Regions from separate parts of the Homo sapiens genome. Here region 1 is linked to region 2. The links come from fine-mapping of genetic effects on gene expression. Tissue or cell type: whole blood. Region 2 holds a variant in brackets; the other region holds the start of a gene. All regions are shown on one strand. Distances are between the middles of the regions.

The links. PIP is the estimated chance that this variant, and not a neighbour inherited with it, causes the effect.
Region 1: it holds the start of FASTKD1, and the variant in region 2 is fine-mapped to the expression of FASTKD1 in whole blood (INTERVAL, PIP above 0.99).

Annotation. Positions count from the first base shown.
Region 1 is chr2:169,572,534-169,575,033 of GRCh38, reverse strand. FASTKD1 (FAST kinase domains 1) reads left to right here and starts at 1,169. Exons shown (of 15, transcript NM_024622.6): 1 at 1,169-1,365. RefSeq lists enhancers at 958-1,057, 960-1,562, 1,418-1,587.
Region 2 is chr2:169,530,165-169,532,927 of GRCh38, reverse strand. FASTKD1 (FAST kinase domains 1) reads left to right here. Exons shown (of 15, transcript NM_024622.6): 13 at 1,438-1,576; 14 at 2,227-2,341. Among named protein-coding and RNA genes, the nearest start is that of KLHL41, 22 kb to the right of the region's middle. The variant C/G (reference allele first, on the strand shown) is at 1,552.

The DNA of each region.
Region 1 (2,500 bases), 42 kb before region 2:
GAGGTGTACCCAACAGCTCATTGAGAACGGGCCATGATGACAATGGCGGTTTTATGGAATAGAAAAGGGGGAAAGGTGGGGAAAAGATTGAGAAATCGGAAAGTTGCTGTGTCTGTGTAGAAAGAAGTAGACATGGGAGACTTTTCATTTTGTTCTGTACTAAGAAAAATTCTTATCCTGTTGATCTATGACCTTACCCCCAACCCTGTGCTCTCTGAAACATGTGCTGTGTCCACTCAGGGTTAAATGGATTAAGGGCGGTGCAAGATGTGCTTTGTTAAACAGATGGTTGAAGGCAGCATGCTCCTTAAGAGTCATCACCACTCCCTAATCTCAAGTACTCAGGGACACAAACACTGCAGAAGGCCGCAGGGTCCTCTGCCTAGGAAAACCAGAGACCTTTGTTCACTTGTTTATCTGCTGACCTTCCCTCCACTATTGTCCTACGACCCTGCCAAATCCCCCTCTGCGAGAAACACCCAAGAATGATCAATAAAAAAAATAAATAAATAAAATAAAAAAAAGAAAGTTGCACAGCATATTCCAACAAATATCAGTTTGGTACCTTTAGAGCCTTACTTTGTTGTAGTGATTATCAGCTGAAAATTATGTCTGTTGTAACTTTGGTAAGCATTCCACTTTGGTTATTTATTAGTGGTATTTTTTTTTTAAGTGTCAAGTGTCAAATCTTGGGACTATTAAAATACCATGGTAAGTAAAAAAAAAATATGGTCTGAGAACTGGTACCTATCCACGACATAAGTGCAGAAACTGAGAGTATGAGTTTGCATACTTTCAAAGTTACTCGACAGAGTTATTTCGTATATGCTAAAAAATAATAAGAAAAATCTGTACGTGTCTTTTCCATGTTTACATTTTTAAATTTCATTTTCCTAAGTATATTTTTGTGTATATTATAAAAGTAGTAGACTTCCAAGGACTAGGAGAACAACCTTAGATAGTAGAGAATCACCTAAACGACCTATATCTTCTTCAACAGCTTAAGCTGTGTACTGCGCTAGAGCCTCCCTCAATGAGGAACTACAATGCCCAGAATTCCCCCAAAATGCGTGAGCGACGTCCATTTCACCCACCTCGCCGCGACCCACCCTGGGATATGTAGTGCGTGACTTCCGCAGTGCACGCTGCGCCTGCCGGGCATTTTTTCCTGGTTTGGGGGCAAGGTCTCATGGGAAAGGTCATGTCTCTCGAAGAAAGGTTATAAACCCTGAGATATGAGGGTTGGGCGAGACATCCGAGCCTGTTTCGTTCCGTGTTGGGACCAGGAATAACCCTGACTTCTGAGCTTTCATAACCCCAGGATCCTCCAGAAAATTTGCGGCGCGCTGAGGGAAAACCTTGCTGGCAAGTCGGGACTGTGTGGCAGCGGCTATTTTTCTTTTCCCACCCAGCACGTTTTCGGGCTGGGGACATAGGGTTCAGTTGAGATACGGAGGCTTCCTTCGGGATATTGGGTTCTCTGAAGTGCGGATGGACTAGGGCAGGGCTGAGACCCCATTCATTCACTCATTTGTTTAGCTCTCCTTTATGCCCGGCGCAGAAGATACCCCTTAGGGTCCCAAGGCCCTTCCTGTAGTTAAGTTCCTTCCTTAAGGTCATTCAGCTGGGGCAAAGCTGGGGACTCGACACCTTTCTATGCTAACCATTGAGCTGCCTCCACTTTGAGCAGCTCAGTGGATGAATATAGTATCTTGAGGATACCTTTGATTTGTGCAGGGTTTTCTTGTGCAGGTTTGTGACCCAGGTCAGCTTAGGTCAGGATGCTGTACTGCTTGCCACAAAATAGCCTGTACTGTCGCGTCGTTTTTTCTTGTGAACAGACTGTTTGGCATAGCCGTAGAGAGGGGTCTGAGACATGAATTTAGTGATACAGCGTTGATTTGTTTGTGTAATGAAGCTGTTCAAGTGGAAAGAACTGAGTTGTAGTCCCTGCTTCACTAGTACTAGAAGGATTTTTTAAACCTTTTTGAACCTATTTTGCCTTATCTGTAAAATGGAAATAATATCAACCTGGAAGGTTAGCTGAGAGAATTTAATGAGATAATGTGTTTCAAACGTTCTTTGTAAATGGTAACATGTTGCAGAAATATTAGATTATATGACTTTAGTCCCTGCTTTTCTAACCATTACTTCTCAATTATAAATGTAAACATTTATAGCATATTTTTAAAACAAATTATTCTTTTTTCATAATTATCTTTAGTTCTTTTATTGTTTCAGCATGACTTGAAACATTACTTAATTTCTTAGTATTTCTTGATTGGTGCTTTAATTGTGTCGTTCATTGGTTAAAACCTATCCAAGGCCAGTAATGATTAAATTATATGACTTCTTTTATTTATTTATTTTCTAAAGAAAGGAATTATTTGAGCTCTTTAAGGGCACAAGAAAAAGGGGCAAGAAATTATCCTGAAAGCAAATAAACCTGAGACCATACTTCTGAAAAATTAAAAAAAAAAAGTATATATATATGTATGTA
Region 2 (2,763 bases):
TTATCGAAATGTTAGATTTGGCCTACTATAATGAACTCAATGGTGAAGGATTGAAGGCAGTGGAACCTATTCCTCATACGTCTCATGCACTGCACCCCTATACCTTTGCTTTTCCTGTTTTAAGTGTCTTTTATGTTTATTTTATAGTTTGTCCAAATTGGGATCTTAACATTCCACTTGGTTGGTTTGCAGTTTTTGGTTCAACTTTTCCTTTCCTACTTCTTTTTTTAACTTAAAATTTGAGAATAAGTTTTTTTTTTCCACATTTCGAACTTTTCTAATTGCAGCCCTGTGATAACATTTAAAATGTCATCTGATAGTTTTTAATGTTTTTACTGTAAACCTGGGTTTGCTGTAAACCATTAGTGATATCTAGAGATTTGATTAGATTTTAGGTTTTTTTTTTAGGTTTTTCTTTTTGGCCAAAAACTTCATAAGTGGCTTGTACTTCTTTCTGCATCCTCTCAGGAGGCACACAAGGCTGGTTGTCTTTTTCTTTTTCTTTCTTTCCTTTTTTTTTTTTTTGTCTGGCTCTGCTGCCTAGGCTGAGGTGCAGTGGCACAAGCATGGCTTACTGCAGCCTTGACCTCCTAGGTTCAAGGGATCCGCCCACCTCAGCCTCCTCAGCCGGAGTAGCTACCACTACACCTGGCTTATTTTTTAAGTTTTTTGTAGAGATTGGGTTTTGCCATGTTGCCCAGGCTGGTCTGGAACTCCTGAGCTCAAGCAATCTGCCTGCCTCGGCCTCCCAAAATGCTGGGATTACAGGTGTGAGCCACTGTGCCTGGCCTGGTTGTCTTTTATACATTAAGACTCATCAGTGGGTTCGTATGTTGTCAGCTGATTCATTCAACAGAAAGTTCCCCTGTCAGCTTTTCACCTGCTGATTTTAGCAGTTATTAATGATCACTCATTGCCTAAATCCATCATTCAGAGGGGTGGTAAAGTAGCGATATTCTACATCTATCATGCCTTCTACATTTATTAGCTGGAATTTGTCTAAAAAGGACTTTCCCATATCAACTGTTTAGTTACTCTTATGTACAATTCATGTAGAAAAGACAGGATAAATGCTTGTATCTTTTTCTTTATTAATTTTCAGATGAGTTGGTTTAGCTTTCTCCAAATGTAATCAAGAGCCTTAAAGAGATTGAAACTCTTTAATGTGATTTGGCCTAGCCCAGCGCTAAATGTAGCCTAGTACTTAATATTGTTTTGTAATTCTTCTGGTTGATTTTTTTATTGATTGATTTCCAAAGAGAGGTGCCATTGGACCAGATCTTATAAAAATAACTTGGATAATCTGAGAGGTTCGTCATTCTTTTGTGAGTGTGTGTGTGTACAAATATTATATGCATATATATTTCAAATATATCTTAAACTTTTATCTGTAAGACTTTACCTAATTCATACTACCAGTTTCTATGCTTCCTTAAGATTTTGAGTGTATCTTGGATAAAAGAAAAAAACCTCTTCCGTATGGAAGCCATAATATAGCATTGGGACAACTACCAGAAATGCCCTGGGAATCAAATATCGAAATAGTTGGAT[C/G]AAGGCTGCCACCAGGGGCTGAAAGGTAATTTATTTCTTAGTTTTAGATTGTATTAATATCTAAATGTTAAATTTGGTGTACTATACTGAAGTCAGTGATCAAGGATTGAAGGTAGTGGAATCTGTTCCTCATATGTCATGCATTCCACCTTTGTAACTTTGCTTTTCCTCTCCTTTCTGCTTTAATGTTCTCCCTTCTTCTGTCCAAAGCCTAGCAATCTCCCTAACTAAAGTGCTAAAAGAATTGTCCTCCACTGGAAGTAAAATAGTATCTTCTTTTGCGCTCCCATACCTCTCTACTTTTCTCATAGCACTTAGCCACTTCCTACACTGCATTACAGTAACTTACTATACATCATGTGTTCTCTGTTAGACTATAAGCTGTGTTGCTTCATATTTGTACCCCTCACAGTGGTTTACATGTAGTAGGCATGTGTAAATATATATTGGACCAAAAAAATGGATGAAAGCAGACAAATATTTACAATAATTTTGTGTAACTAAATAGGTTTGTCATCAATTACTAATTTCTTAGTAGAAACATAACTTGATATACTCATTTATATTCATTGGCTTTTGTTAGTTTATAAAGATGCAATCTTGTTTCTGAAAAGCTTGTAATTATTCAGTTTCTTATTCTGATTTTAGGAGTAAATATTTTTTTATTTTATGTAGGATTGCTTTGGAATTTTTGGATTCAAAAGCACTTTGTAGAAATATCCCTCACATGAAAGGAAAATCTGCTATGAAAAAACGACATTTGGAAATTCTGGGGTATCGTGTAATTCAGGTATGAAATACTCATGTAATTCAGCCTCTAAAAAGCCCAGAGACACTAGCTGTACATGTGCTTCCTTTTAATGTGAAAGTTCCAGAATTACCTTTTTAAATATATTTTTTAAAATGTATCACTCAAACAGGCCAGATACAATAGCTCATGCCTGTAGCTACTTGGGTGGCTGAGGTGGGAGGATTGCTTGATCCTAGGAGATTGAGGCTGCAGTGAGCCGTGATCATCCCACTGCACTCCAGCCTGGGTGACAGAGCAAGACCCTGTCTCATAAAAATAAATAAATAAAAGTTGTCATTTATTTTATTGTCTTTAGAATATCCATATCTTATGATTTCTATATCTTACAAAGGAGAGAGGCACTGTAGAGATGGATAGAGTTATCAGAGGAAACAACTAGGTATGAATATAGAAGACTATGT